Regions from separate parts of the Homo sapiens genome. Here region 2 is linked to region 1. A link means that fine-mapping ties the variant in region 1 to the expression of a gene that starts in the linked region. Tissue or cell type: whole blood. Region 1 holds a variant in brackets; the other region holds the start of a gene. All regions are shown on one strand. Distances are from middle to middle.

Region 1 (8,095 bases):
CCTTTACCGGCATCTACATGTGGAATTAACACATCTTCTAAACCCAAATCAAAGCGTTTGTGTTTTGAAGAGTCTGGAAGGAAAAAGAATGCCCCAAAACACAGAGTGATGAAGGCACTAAGAATAAGGAGAAGAATAAACTTCTCAGAAAGTCTCAAGGTAGCCCTGTGATGTGGGAAGGAAGGCGGCCCCAGGTTCAGAGGTGGTATCCTACGTCCAGAGAGGGGCAGCAGGGCTGGGGTAGTCATCGTTTACGCTCTTGGAGAGAATACTTTAGAAAGTTCTCATCTTATGTCAAATGTAGAATACATTGAACTGTCTTCAAAATCTTGGCCAAAATGGGAAAACTCAATTTTGCTCCTCTTAAAGGACTGTTGTGCTTTTTAAGAGGGCACGTCATTCACGCCCATCCATTCCCACTCAGAAACGTGTGTGACCTCCCCCAAACGATCACAAGTTTAGGTCCTGCGATATCCTCTTCAACATCTGTACTTCATCGGATTATTACAAGCCTCCTCTTCATTCCTAGGGGTAGATCAGGCAAGCCACACTGCAGAAAAGCTGCAAGGTGGGTTCTTCCATTCCTGCACCTCAGTGAGATGCTCAAACGTAGTCTTCCGCCCCGAAAGGGAGACTGGCGACATCCGAGGAGTTGTAGAAGGTTCACTTGATCTCCTTCGACGCTTCTATTCCAGAATCTCTTAACCTTAGCGGTGGAAAAAATAAGGGTCTCCCACGGACGTCTGCAAACAGGGAGGAAGGTCTCCCACTTCGCTGGGAAGCCGAAGCAGCGGCGCTGGGCGAAGTAGCAGGAAGGAGTTCTCGGCCGCCCGCGCTTCCCGGCGCTGCCTGGCAGGAACCTGGCGCCCGGCTGAGTCCCGCTGCTGCCCACTCGACGGCTGGCGCGAAGGGCAATAGCGTCCGAAACACCTGAGTCCGGCCAGCCGCCGCGGCCGCCGCCGCTGTTGCTACCGCACGGGTCTGTCAGGGAGCGGAACTTCCTCCTCCGGCGGCCACTGAGAAGCCCCGGCGTGTCCTGGGGGAGGGGAGGCGCGGCGGCCGCCCCCGCCGAGCTCCTCCTCCTCCTCCTCCTCCTCTTCCTCCTCCTCCTCCTCCTCTCCGCGGCCGGTTCAGTGAACCCCGGCGCCTGCTCCCCGAGCTAGGCCGCCGGCCGCAGTGGCCGAGCCCTCGCGCCTAAGAAGCCGAGCCGGGGCCCACGCTCCGAGAGCCCGGGGTAGGCGCCGGCTCATTCCTCACTCAGCCCTGGAGCGGCGGGAGGGCCTGGGCGCGCGGGAGCAGCCGCGCCTCGGGCGGGCAGAGGTCGGCCGCGTCTCCTTCCTGCCCGGCCGCGGGGGCCTCCTCCGCGCCGCCTCCGGTGGCTCGCAGCTGCTGGCTCTGGCGGCGGCTGCCAGAGAGGCAGCGCGCCCACGCCGCTCGGGGCTGCGGCCCGGTCCCCGTACCCTGCCTCCCCAGGCCTGGTGAGCGCAGCAGCTGCTGGGCCGACACCCGTTGGGCTCACGCCGGAGAGGAACCGGAGGGCGGGGGCGATGGGACCCGGGCCGGCCTACCGGCCCCGGCTCGCGAGTGGGCGTCCCCGGGCGGCGGAGTGTGAGGTGCGCGCGCACGCTCCCGGCTCCGCTGCCGCCGCCCCTCCCCCACCCAGCCTGGCTGCCCGGGCTCCGGCCTCGCGCCGCTGCCGGCTCCAGCAGCCCGAAAGCGTACTGCTGCCGCCGCCGTCTGAGCGCGAAAGAAGAGAAGGTCGCCGATCTGCGCTGCCACGAGAACTTCACCGGTGCCCAGGGCCTTGCCACCGCCAGTTCGTGGGGTTGACCCAGCGTTTGGGCGAGAGGGAGCGAGGGGTTGGGTCGCGAAGGTTTCGCTGAAATGTAGTGTCACCGGAGTTAATGGCTTCTGATGGCTTAGGTTAACGTTTACTGTGATTCTTTGGAAGTCTTGTCTTCAGCGATAGACCGTCAGGCCCGAGGATTCAGCAACAGGGTCTCAAACTTCCACGCAGCAGCCCATGCTCACGTTATTGGGCCCCCGAGGCTCGATTAATAGAGCACCAACATGTGCCATGTTACGTTTTTAAAATAAAGTGGTGACCCTGCTCCTTCAGCTGGGCTTCCTTTCAGAGGAATCTAGGTACCCCCGATATGACAGGCGTCTCTTCATTGTTCAGTTTCTGGGGCACGTTCTATCATCTTCACACACCTCATCAACCCCCTTCCCATAAAAGAGAAAATGGATGAATAAGGAGGTGCTGAAACCCAAAAAGGCGACAATATTGTTTACGTTCAGGCTTAAAAACAATCTGAATCAATTCTGTTCTCCGTAGTATTGAGGAGAGCCATGTTGTGATTAAGTGCAAAAGATTTCCTTGCAAGATACATAGACTCTTGCATCCGATTTACTTGCAGGTTGTTTTTGTTCTAATATTGTCATTCCCTGTACACATCCTTTACTGATGACTGGGAATTGGAGAGGAGGCCCTTAAATGTCAGGAGAGTAAGTCAGCCTTAGCTTAAAAATCAAGCAGAAAAGTCTCATGTTCATTGGCACACTTGTAACTACATTCCAGTCTCCCAGTCTGCATTATTTCTAGAAGCTCTGCATATCTAACTGCCTACCACATGACAAAAGTCATTGTCATTGATCCTGCTTCACCAAATAAAAAGTAAAAATATTGAGGGCCACCTCTCACCAGTTCACCCAGGGAGACTGGTAAGCAAGGAGTGCCCGGTCCCTAGTGAGATTTATGTTGAACATTTGTGAAGAGTAGATATAAGAAACTTTTAGCCTTCCCAATATGTCTTTATAAAATGTGCCAAATTTAAGAATAAGTCTCTAATGTTGAGACTCCGTAAGCCAAAGTGGGGGGGGCGGTGGGGAGGCGGGGAAGAACACACTGTTTTCCTACTGTTGAGATCATTAGTTTCCATGAAAAGTTCAGGGGAAATAAATACTGAACTCTGAATGAAATAGCAAGTTATATAAATCTTGAAAAATAAATATTACCTAGGTTAACACTAGACTTAACCACAAGAGATTTCAATCATGAAACCTGACATAACCTAGTTGACAAGTATAGCTTAAGCAAGTAAGACCTCATTGCTGATGGAGAAGACCCCTTTTCCTTTGCTTGTCTGTTTTGCAAAATTCATTTTTCCTTCATGAGAGTAAAAACAATTTAGGGGTTATTGCAGATGTCCAAATGCAGCCAGCAATTTTAAAGTCATTGATGATACCGTCAGTTATCACACTCCTACACCAGCAATGAAAATACTGTATACATAGTATTACATATATCCACTCTTCTAAAGGCAAGTCTGAGTTTTTAAAGAATCATGTTGTTTAAAAAAAAAAAAGTTGCAAATGTATCCATTAATTATAATTATATGCACTTAAAAACATAGAAAAAGAATATTTGAAAAAGATTGCAACTATTCTGTTAAGATACTGGTTTTACGTATGATTTTCTCCATTGTATTCTGTTGCATTATATTTACAATTAAATAAAAATTATAAAGGAACTGGTGCCTGAAAAAGTTAAGGTCAAATTTCAAATAGGTAGACTCGGTAGTATCAAGATGAACACACAGACCGGCCCATCTGAAGGCAATCGGCAGAAACAGTATGCAGCCTGTTCTATGTATGTGTGTATGTGTGTGTACACGTACAACAGGGAAGGATTTCATTCCAGAGAGTCTAAAAAGAATATTTCATTTTCAAAGAGTAGTTACCCTTTGATCAGAGATTCCAAAGTGATGATTTCCCTTTTACAAATCCATATAAATTAATATTTTAGAAATTAGAATTAATAAATTACTAACAAAATTTACTCCTGCAGATTTACAGGACCACTCCTAAGATCCACTCGTATTGCAATGTGGAAGTTACTTGTATTTGTTCAACCATGTGTTGACTTTTCTATTATTGAAACCATTTCACACCTGTTATACACACACGCATGCACACACACACACACACACACACACATACACCCCTAGCTCTGTTTTAAGTGAAACTGAAGTGCTACAGGAAAAAAATAAAAGCTGGTATGCAAAAAGAGGCTTTTGATTTACTTATGTAACCTGTTCCAACTGGTGCCCAAAATGTACAAGGAAGATATTGGAGGAGAAATTACTCGACGTGACCACTGAATGTGTAGGGAAATAACAGGCTTCAGCCTTGCTCCTTCCAATCTTGCTTTCCTCTATGAGGCATTTTCCTCAGAGGTCAGGGATAAACTGAAGTTCAGTGCTGTGAAGCCCTCAAGTAAGATCCGTGAAAGTCGGCAAAGCCAAAAAATCTTGGCTGCTTCTCTGAGCCAAAGTACGTGAGGCTCATTTGCTTATAAAAGACTCATTTGTTGGAGGACTACTATTTGACAAATCCTGTACTAGGTGCTGGAGATTTGGAGAAATAAGTCAGAATCCTTATGCTCAGTGAGCTTGCAGTCTAGTGTGGAGGAGTAGATGAACACTGACGATTACAAGACAGTGGGAAGAATGCTGTTGGAGCAAAGTGTCACGGGCTTTATGGGAACACTGAAGGTGCCACAGAGTGAGAGGAGGTGGATTGGGAAAGTTAGGGAAAGTTCCCCAATCCAGTGTCACCTGAGCTGAGCCTTGAACCATAAGAGAAGGGTCGTGCTCCAGCCTAGGGAGCAGAGCA[T/C]GCGCAGGCACCCATAGCTGGTTTTTCCTGCCATTTACGCAGAACACTTCCTGCTCTACTCGTCCAGTAAATAGCTTGCCTGGCCCTAATCTCACAACACTCTTGAGCTGGGAAAGTGAAAATGGTGGGGCAGTGCTATTGCATTGCAAATAAAATGGGTTCAGAATGACTAATGGGTATTGCCAACATGTTTCTGTAATGAAAAGACATAGATGGTATTCGTGCTTTCACAGGCAGTACCCTCTTGTTTCAGGCAATGTTTCACCTCTTTAAATCCATTAATAAAGTGAAGCCCTTTAAATGTATATGAGGTACTGAACTAGGAGTCAAAAGACATGGATTTCAAACCTAGCTCTACTCCTTACTGAGTTTCCTTATTTATAAAACATAATAGTCCTTACCTATTTTATAGGACTGTTTAAGGATCAAATGAGCTATTGTTTCTAAAATGCTCTAAAGACTTGTTTGTTCTATTCAGAATAATAGGTTGCTGATGGTTGTGTTTGTGTGACTTGGAAACATGAAATTCCAGTTTGTCTAGCATTCCTTTAGAAAACTATCTTTTCCCCGGTCTTAGTCTATTGGTCTAGATTGGGATGACCTCTCAACCACCCACTATAGCACTTGCTCCCACCATTAACTAGATCCAGGAATGTTACCCAGATTTGACTAACCTGTGTTCCACATTTCCCTGGCCATAATGATTGGTTTGGAAAAGGGCAAGTGACACAAACCAAGCTAATCCAAACCCTCCTTAGGTCATTTCCTGATGTCATCAGCAAAAGTGGTATCTCTTTACCTTAGAATTCCCAGCCCTGAGCGTGCTATAACCTTAGAGCTGCCAGTGGCCTTCTTGCCACCATGTGAGGAAGTTTGCTACTAATGAAGCAAACAGAGAAGAAAAGAGCTGAAACAGTGAGAGAGAAAGTATCTACATGGTATCACTTGAGCCCTTGGTAAGGGTGGATCTGGGTCTTGTGGGGCTGGAAGCATACCTAATTTGAGGAGTCCTCTTTAAGAAAAATAATACAAAATGAATTATTAAAGTGGATTTTAGGGCGGGTGTGGTGGCTCACACCTGTAATCCCAACACTTTGGGAGGCCGAGGCAGGTGGATCATGAGGTCAGGAGATTAAGACCATCATGGCCAGCCTGGTGAAAACCCGTCTCTACTAAAAATACAAAAATTAGCTGGGTGTGGTGGCGAGCGCCTGTAATCCCAGCTACTCAGGAGGCTGAGGCAGAAGAATCGCTTGAACCCGGGAGGCAAAGATTGCAGTGAGCCAAGATCGCGCCACTGCACTCCAGCCTGGTGACACAGTGAGACTCCATTTCAGGAAAAAAAAAAAAGGATTTTGCTAAACTGAATTCCATTACAAGTGAGTATGTCTTAGTAATGCTGAGACCACACCACCACCACCCGACCCACGCGACCAATGGAGCAGTGTGACGGATAGGAAATCAGAGTAGAAAAGAAACCACAATCTTAACCAATCGTGATTGAAATATTTTATTTTTACAAGATTTAGAAAAACATGATTATGTATACATGTTGCTAGGACCTCTCCCAGAGCCTAAGACAGGACCGAGCAATTAGTAACCCAGAAATTTAAACTTCATTGGGCTCATTGTAAATCTACTTCTCTGAATCCAGGTATATCTAAGGCTATTTCATCTTTTGAATTTCTCGGTTGTATAAGTCTATAAATTTCTTTTTCAGTCAGAATTAGTTTCTGTGGCTTACATTCAAGAGTCTTGACTAATACACAGTGTGTCTTTACATGGAGGTATTGTGGCTGGTAGTAGTATGTGAAGCTTCAGTAGTTTTACAAGTATAAGTGATCAGGGACTAGAAGGAACCTACTCTTTCAGGTAGGCAACAAGCTTGGGCAGGGACAAAAGCAGAATGAAACCAGCAGAGATGTCTCTGTGGTCGGCCAGGGAAAGAAAACCTAAAACTGGGAGGGCTGGACAGATGTGACTGCAGAGGTATATCAAAGCTAGCAACCCCTACAGAAACCTTCCAAGTTGGATCCTCATATCCACCTTTATGAAAAGGAATTTGACTCCAAAAGAGGTTAGGAATTCTTTATAAATCCTTATATTAAAATTGTTTTAAATCCATTCTAGGCAGCTAATTTGAGAATATGTTTCATTGATTTATATATTCATTCATTCATTATTATTGAGCACTCACTCTCTGTTGGTGTTATGCAGTGTTCTAGGCATCCAGAGATGAATAAAACATGAGAAGCAGCTGTATATGATGAAAAGAACATGGGCTCTGGAGCTGGAGAAACCTGGGCCTAATCTTGCCTCTGACATTTACTTGCATAATATTGGAAACAAAGGAAATCTTACTTGTTCTTAATTTATTCATCCATAAAATCAGGATAAAAATACACACCTCATAGGGTTGTTATGAGGATTAAACTCAATAATGTATGTGATAGTGCTTCCCCCCATAGTTGGGATTCAATAAGTATTAACTATTGTTTTTATTATAGGCATTAGAAAAAGTAAGAGTTGGTAGATAAAGAGAGGAAGGAAGAGCCTTTGAAAATACTTACAGGGACCAGGTGTGGTGGCTCACACCCGTAATCCCAGCTTTGGAAGCCTGGGAAATGTGGTGAGACCGTGTCTCTACAAAAAAATTTAAAAATTAGCTGGGCACGGTGGTGTGCGCCTGTAGTCCTAGCTGCTTAGGAAGCTGAGGTGGAGGATAGCTTGAGCCCAGGAGTTCAAGGTGTAATAGAGCAAGTCCTTGTCTCAAAAGATAAAAGAGAGGGAAGAGAAAGGAAGGGTAGGGGAGGAGGGAAGGGAAGGAAAGGAGGGAAAGGAAGAGAAGGAGGGAAGGGAAGGGAAGAAGGGAGGGGGGACAAGGAATAGAGGAAGGAGAAAGGGCATGGCATGTGTTAAGGGAAACTCGTCTCCCATAGCTTGAGCCCAGGAGTTCAAGGCTGCCATGAGCTATGATGGTACCACTGGACTCCAAACTGGCAAGAGCTTGTCTCCAAAGAAAGAGACAAAAGGGCCAGGTGCGGTGGCTCACACCTGTAATTCCGGCACTTTGAGAGGCCAAGGTGGGCAGATCACCTGAGGTCGGGAGTTCGAGACCAGCCTGACCAACATGGAGAAAACTCGTCTCTACTAAAAATACAAAATTAGCCGGGCGTGGTGGCACACGTCTGTAATCCCAGCTACTCAGGAGGCTGAGGCAGTAGAATCTCTTGAACCCGGGAGGCGGAGATTACAGTGAGCCAAGATTGCACCATTGCACTCCAGCCTGGGCAACAAGAGCAAAACTCTGTCTCAAAAAATAAAAATAAAAGAGACAGAGAGGGAAGGAAGAAAGGAGGGAGGGAGGAAGGAAGGAAGGAAAGAAAAAGACAAGACTTAGAGGAATGAGAAGGAGCAT
Region 2 (8,106 bases), 610 kb after region 1:
TCATCCCAAGATTCTGCGTTACTGAGAAGGAAGAAAATGGAAATTATCAACATTCAGCAACAGAGTTAGTACATAGTCTAGAGGTTGGGTCACGAAGTTTGCCCGTCTCTTCAGAATGGAAATATTTTTTTTCTACTTATAACAGCAACACAGTAACATGATTGTGGTGATGGTTGCAAAACTCTGAATATACTAAAGGCCGTTTTAGTGTATGGACAAATTGAATGATAGGTGAATTATCTCAATGAAGCTGTTTAGAAAAAAAAGAAAAGGTCATCATCCTTGCCAAAAAGACCTCTGAGTTTGAATCCTGACTTTGCTCCTGTCAAGCAATGAGACCTTGGACAAGCTGCTTCTGACTAGGTCTCTGTTTTCTTATATATAACAAGGAGATAATAACAACTAGGTCTCAGTATTGTTGGGCGCTTTAAATAAGATCATGTAAGCAAGCACTTGACCCCTAACTGGTAGCCATTATTTCCGCCGCAATGCTAAATGTGACCCAAATGTGAAAACACCAACATGGTCCCCCATGTAGGGCTCACACTCAAAACAGGACACTCGAGTTCTGTGCTGTTTGGAGTCCTGAGATCTGTGGTTTCCAGAGCCCATAATCAGAGGCTCTTTTCAGCGCCATGCTCAACCCCACTACATTTCTACAAGGTGCTCTCCACTCAAGGTTGCAGGACTAGGGTGTGGAAAGTTGTCACTTCAGGGGAGCTGACAGTGTCTGGGATTGCTGGAGTGGGCAATCTGACACTATCTGGGATTGCTGGTAGGCCCAGGTGCTGAAGATGGGGCTGGAGACAGAGAGGAAGAAGGTGGGGTCCCTGCTTCTGGCGACATTTTCTGTGTGAAGCACAGAAATGCTTATTTGCTCACTGAATGGCTGGCCTGTGCTCATGCTGGGGTTCCTGTCTTCCTCCCCAAGCCAGCTTCCTCTTTTCCCTTCTTATCACTCCCTGCCCAGCATCCGTGGGCTTTCAACTCCAATCATTGTACAAGCTGATAAAATATTTTTAAAAGTTTAAAGCAGATTAAAAATTACCCACAACGCCACCACTCAAAGTCAATAATGAATAATATTTTCATGTATATCTTTAGCAGATATTTTCTATTTATATGTATATATATAAATAATATAATATTTCAGCTGGGAGAGGTGGCTCATGCCTGTAATCCAGCACTTTGGGAGGCTAAGGTGGGCGGATCTCTTGAGGCCAGGAGTTCAAGAGTAGCCTGGCCAACATGGTGAAATACATCTCTACTAAAAATATGAAGATTAGCCAGGTGTGTTGGCATGCGCCTCTAATCCAAACTACTCAGGAGGCTGAGGCATGAGAATTGCTTGAACCCAAGAGGCAGAGGCTGCAGTGAGCCAATATTTCACCACTGCACTCCAGGCTGGACGACAGAGTGAGACCCTGTCTCTTTCTGTCTGCCTCTCTCTCTCTCTCTCTCTCTCTATATATATATATGTAATATTTTAAAAATTAAAACTAATTTATGTGATCTTACAGTCTGCCTTTTCCCCTTTATTGTGAAATTATATTATGAAGTTCTTTTCTTAATGAACATCAATAAATGCATATATGCATCTTTTTAAAGGATGCATTCTTAATTTAACTGATTAATAAGTTTCTAACTGCTGACTGTTCTAGTATTTCGCTAACATGAATAATGCAGTGATGGGCACCCTTGTGGAGTAGTACCTCCGTATACATTCACTAAGATAGCGTCTTAGAACTGATCCAACCTAAGGCCTTCCATGGATGAGAACTCCTTAATTCTGAGTTGCTGGGATTAACCCCTTCCCTACTAGCATCTGCTTCTAAGGGGCCCTCCATTGCCTCTTCAGCCTGCAGCAGCAACTCCCTCATGAAGGAAATGCAGGCACAACTACTGGAGTTTGAGAAGTTTGGAGGCCGGGTGCGTGGTTCACACCTGTAATCCCAGCACTTTGGGAGGCCGATGCAGGCGGATCCCCTGAGGTCAGGAGTTTGAGACCAGCCTGACCAACATGGCGAAACCCCGTCTCTACTAAAAATACAAAAATTAGCCGGACGTGGTGGTACATGCCTGTAATCCCAGCTACTTGGGAGGCTGAGGCAGGAGAATCGCTTGAACCTGGGAGGCAGAGGCTGCAGTGAGCTGAGATCATGCCAGTGCACTCCAGCCTGGGCAACAGAGCAAGATGCCATCTCAATTAAAAAAAAAAAAAAAAAAAGAGAAGCTTGGAGAAACAAAGAGATGTGGGAGGGCATTAGCACTGAGAAAACAGGCATTGTGCCCCAGGCACTGCAGGACACTTGTACACACCTTGTCTCACTGAATATCCCTTGAAGTTGTCATTGGAAAAGCAGACTCACAGCAGATAGGGAATTTGCCCAAGGCCATGGTCACCTTAAGTCTGGTAATAGTGACCAACTACAAGTTGAATCAAGATGTTGTATGACATTGACGTGCACACACATAAAGCAAGTCACTGTCTTTCGGCTAAAGGGTGAAGGGTTTCTTTTTGGGGCAATGAAAATGTTGATTGTGGTGATGGTTACAAAACTCTGAATATACTGAAGGCCATTTTAGTATATGGACAAATTGAATGGTAGATGAATTATCTCAATGAAGCTGCTTGGAAAAAAAAAGAAAAGGTCGTCATTCTTGCCAAAAAGACCTCTGAGTTTGAATCCTGACTTTGCTCCTGTCAAGCAATGAGACCTTGGACAAGCTGCTTCTGACTAGGTCTCTGTTTTCTTATATATAACAAGGAGATAATAACAACTAGGTCTCAGTATTGTTGGGCGCTTTAAATAAGATCATGTAAGCAAGCACTTGACCCCTAACTGGTAGCCATTATTTCCGCCGCAATGCTAAATGCGACCCAAATGTGAAAACACCAGCATGGTCCCCCGCGTAGGGCTCACACTCAAAACAGGACACTCGAGTTTTGTGCTGTTTGGAGTCCTGAGATCTGTGGTTTCCAGAGCCCATAATCAGAGGCCCTTTTCAGCGCCATGCTCAACCCCACTACATTTCTACAAGGTGCTCTCCACTCAAGGTTGCAGGACTAGGGTGTGGAAAGTTGTCACTTCAGGGGAGCTGACAGTGTCTGGGATTGCTGGAGTGGGCAATCTGACACTATCTGGGATTGCTGGTAGGCCCAGGTGCTGAAGATGGGGCTGGAGACAGAGAGGAAGAAGGTGGGGTCCCTGCTTCTGGTGATATTTTCTGTGTGAAGCACAGAAATGCTTATTTGCTCACTGAATGGCTGGCCTGTGCTCATGCTGGGGTTCCTGTCTGCCTCCCCAAGTCAAGCGCAGCTTCTTCTTTTCCCTTCTTGTCACTACTTCCCCAGCATCCCCCCGGGCTTTCAACTTCAATGGCATTTCGATTCCACTTTCTCTACCTTCTCTCCCTTGCCTAAGCCACCTTTCTCTATGCCTGACCCTTATTATCCTCATTCTTCCTATTTTAGAGGCACCCTTTGGTCTAGGCCAGTGGCGATTGACTTTGGCAGCTCATTAGAATCCCCCAGGGAGCTTTAGAACCTAATGATACCCAGGCCGCATGCAAAAAAAATCTGATTTAATTGGTCCTCACTCCACTTGGATTACAGCAGCAGCTTTCTAACTAGTCTCCCTAACCCCATCCTCAATATCCACTCCTGTCCTCCCAGTACAGGCAGAGATATACAAAGCCACACCTTGTGCATCTTCTACACATATCAGCAAAAATCACCTGCCACCTTGTATCACTCTGACAAGCAGATCCAAAATAAGGGCTGTTCATCCTTAAATATGTTGTTTCCAGCCCTTTTCTGCCATATAACTCCTCCTTCAGGGCAGCCTGGCTTGAAATGGGCTCTGTCGATGAAAGGCCCGCTGCTCTCCAGTCAGCCTCTTCTTCTCGCCCCACTCTTAGCTCGCCGATTCATCAGCAACCTGGAACAGTTGCCTTTTCCCTCGGCCTACCTGTGTCCCCCTCCCGATTAATGCCACCTTAATCCAGGTTCTTCACCCAACCCCACATTCCTGTAACCACCTGAAGACAGAGTTGTAGGCAGGTAGACTTGAGGGTCTATCAGATGTGTGGATCCCATTCCCGCATTGGACCACAGTCTCCACTGGGGCAGGAGACATGCATCTGGTTTCCTGTATAGCCCCCCTGGAGGCAGAGGTCAGCGCTGGGGAATATTAGAAATGCTATTTTCCAACTTGCCAAATAGCACCCACACTGAAATAAAGCAATTAAGGGAATGAACACTTACCTTGAATCTTCAAATCAAATATTTTTTCCAACACATTTTTTCCTTTTGTATCATATATTGATACCTTGTAGATATCCTGATCATCGGTCTTCAGATGCTTAATTTTCAGAGTTCCATTTTTAAATAGCTTATATGTATCTTTTTCCTTGAAAGTCTCTTTCTCTTTTCTGAATTGTGCAATCTTTTTCTTGTCTGAAGTTTTTTCCCATTTTATATCGTCAATATCATCACTCATTTGAAAACTAGGAATGTCCAAGTTGATGTCCTGACCCAAGGCACCCCAGGTTTCCAAGGCATTCGTAATCTCTTTGGAGACTGCACCTATAAAAAGCAAAAGAGTTACTGAGAGTCACTTTCAGGGAAAGCTGGGTTGGGACTTCTTTGACTCTTATGCTTACCTTTGGAAGAAACATTGAAAATCAGAAGGAAGCTGGCTACAAATTTACATGGAAAGCTCATCTTAGGGGTTGGTTTCCTCTTTTGATTCTGAGCTCTTCATGCAAAAGGAACTGAAGTGAGACTGGTGGAGTCCACACCCCGAGAGCTTAACCACGTGCCTCTCTTTACATCTTTTACAGTAACATAAAACATAATACACATACACAGAGAGCAAGAGCGCGCACAAGCCAGCCCTTCTGATGTGCTCCTTTGCCAAAGCAGATGTGTTTATGAGTGTGTGTTTTCTTGCTGCATTTTAATTCTCACACAAAAAAATTGGGAAGGATAGGTTTTCTCATCTCAGTGAAAGAGAAAAGGAACAGAGAGGCTAAGTAGATCACTAAGGATCACTCTTTTGTAAACAAGAAGCCAAATTCAACCACACAGCCTTTTATCCACTTAGGTATACTGTCCCTAACAAGACCACATAGAAATATAGGTAAATGTTCACAAGCCAATAGCAGAATGCAAACATTTATCCCATATGATTATATTGAAAAATGTAGACCCATAAAATGATGAGGAAATTGATTTTTTTGTTTCTCCAAAGATATTTTTCATGTTCTAAAATCGTTTTTGTGGTGAAAAGAAAGAAATTGAATATCAGCTGTAAATGCTTGCAATCCCCAAATCCTATGTTCGGCATACATTTTACAACTCTAGTGAAATTCACAGTTAGATAAATAAAAACTTATTCCAAAACAAAGAAGCATAGAGACTATGAAATATAATTAAACTACCAAAACAAAGGAGTCAAAAGCATTTAAAGTGATTAACATTATAGGTGGTTAAGAAAAAGGAGAGATTAGGAGAAAAAATAAATGAGAGGGAACAGGGAGAGAAAAAAAGAACAGAAATTTGTGACACAAGGAAACAGACAGTGATGCAGAGACGGGTGTGCCCTGAAAAGATGCCTAAAAAGAGAAATAACCATGACAGACTTCCAAAGCACATTTTCAGGGTTATAATTCTTTAGGTCACAGTGAGTAAAAATTGCAAAAGTGGTGCTCGTTTTCTTTTTCAACTTTAAGTACAAATATGGATATTATCTGTCAGAAAGTTGCCAAGGAAATGAAATTAAGTCAAAGCAGTTGTTTGCTGTTACTGGGTAAAAGAAAGCCAAATATTTACCTCATGGTTGTATGAGCGTCATCCACAATAATGAACTACAGTTGGATTAAAGTTTTAAATGCAAAAATACTATAATAATGCTAAAAGGAGGCCGGGGGTGGTGGATCACAGCTATAATCCCAGCACTCTGGGAGGTCGAGGCGGACCTCCTCACCTGAGGTCAGGAGTTCAAGACCAGCCTGGCCAACATGGTGAAACCCATCTCTACTAAAAATACAAAAATTAGCCAGGTGTGGTGATGTGCGCCTGTAATCCCAGCTACTCAGGAGGCTGAGGCAGGCAAATTGCTTGAATCTGGGAAGCGGAGGTTGCAGTGAGCCAGGATTGTGCCACTGCACTCCAGCCTGGGGAGCAGAGTGAGACTCTGTCTCAAAATAAATAACTAAATAAATAAAATAATAACAATAATGCTAAAAGGACAATATAGAAAGATATTCCTATAGTTTGAGTATGGAAGGCCTGGCTACATATAACATATAATCCAAAGTAAGAAAGAAAAGATGAACACAACTGATGATATAAAGAAGTAAGATTTACATGCAGATGAAGAAATAAGGAACAAAATGAAAAGGCGTGACAAAATATTTGCAATATATATAAAATTATTAATATTCAAAATATTCTTACCAATAATTCTTACCAATCAATACAAAGTAGTTTTTAAAATGGGCAAATGATATAAATGATCAGCTTGCAGAAGAAATATTTCGCAGAAGAAATATCAAACCTACAAGAGGAGTCTAATGTGACCAAAAATATATGTATATATCTTAGCTATAAAATACCATTTTTCACCATCAGATTGGTAAAATTAGAAAAGATGATAATTTACATTATTAACATGAGTGTGTGGAGAAATGAACCCTCATACAACATCAGAGGGAATGTAAATCAATACCTTCTGGGGAAAGGAATTTATCATTTCCACCAAACTTTAAAATTTATGTCTTTTTCTCACCTAGTGATTTTAATTTGAGAAATCTATCCCACAGAAATGATTGCACAGATGTTTTAAAATTCTGTTCAAGGACGTTTGTTGTAGCATTTTTGTAATAAAAAATTGCAAACAACTAAAATTATGGTATATCCATATTATGAAATATTGTATAACCATCAAAATAGTATAACATAGGCCTAAAAGTAAGACATGGAAAGATGCTTTTGGTAAATCACATGAAAAGAGCACATTGCAAAACAATATCTATAGGATTAGTCCTTTTTATATATGATACTATGTTTATACTATGCTATGGGTATACCAGTATACCATAGCATACTATGTTGTTATTAAGGTATGTGTTGGAAAAAAGCCTGAAAGGGTTGATGCTGAATTTTTTTACAGTGCTTGTCTTTCAGGTATTAGATTGTGAGAGAACTGAAATGAAATTTTCACTTCTTACCTTTGTAAACCAAAAAGAATTTGAGACAGATCTCAATCAATTTAGAAGTTTATTTCATCAACATTAGGGACAAAAAGGAACACAGAACCACAGGAAAAATCTGTGGTTTGTGCCTTTTTCTCAAGATTATTTCAAAACCTTCAGTTAAGGGGAAAAGCTGGCCAGAGGGGAAGGAGGGAGGGTACAGTCACATTACTGAATCCATATGTTGCAAGAGAAAAAAAGTAGGTAGGGGAATGGTCAATTTGTATTCTTCTCATGCTCAGTAAATTGGCACTTTCTTAAGATAAGGTGAACATAGAGTAGCTACCCGTGGAGACAGCAGCTTTTTATCTGTAACTCTCTGCTTAGGAACTCAAGGAAAGGCAGTTTCTTGTGTGACTCAACTTTCAGCTTAATTTTTCCTTTTGGCATAATGAATTGGGGTCCCAGGATTTTATGTTTCTTTCACATTTTATTTATTTCTGTGAAGTTTAAAATTTTGGAAATAAGCACCTTTTTTGTTAATAAAAAATGTCTTTTTAAGAAAGGATGCTTAGGGCACACGTATTTTTTCAAAAGTATCGCCAACCCAGAGGAGCAGCATGGAGCTTCCTGTTTGTGAGTGGCTGACCCACCAGCTGCCATCCAACTCCAGTGTGTCAAGGCCTGGTGGAGAGAAGGTGGCGCCAGCCATCCTCTGACCCATCTCAGCTTTGGAGGGCGCTTGTCCTCTCTTCCTCACACTTTCCTCATGGAGCATGTGAAGAGCAGCTTTCTGTTCCTCTATTTGAAACATTAATTTTGCTCCTCTAAAACTAATTCAATTCTGAGTGATGAGCATGGCTTCAAGGGCAGAAACAATGAAAAAGAAAGAGGTCAGTAGATTTG

Evidence for each region. PIP is the estimated chance that this variant, and not a neighbour inherited with it, causes the effect.
Region 2: CD2 starts here. The variant in region 1 is fine-mapped to the expression of CD2 in whole blood (INTERVAL, PIP above 0.99).

What each region holds. Positions count from the first base shown.
Region 1 is chr1:117,360,337-117,368,431 of GRCh38, reverse strand. It overlaps MAN1A2 (mannosidase alpha class 1A member 2), which reads right to left and starts at 983. Exons shown (of 13, transcript NM_006699.5): 1 at 1-983. The coding sequence starts at 248. RefSeq lists an enhancer at 1-57 and silencers at 928-1,747, 4,668-4,727. The variant T/C (reference allele first, on the strand shown) is at 4,678.
Region 2 is chr1:116,751,113-116,759,218 of GRCh38, reverse strand. It overlaps CD2 (CD2 molecule), which reads right to left and starts at 4,789. Exons shown (of 5, transcript NM_001767.5): 1 at 4,666-4,789; 2 at 4,268-4,588. The coding sequence starts at 4,726. RefSeq lists promoters at 4,672-5,114, 4,672-7,269, cis regulatory regions at 6,173-6,202, 6,540-7,039 and a silencer at 6,036-6,539.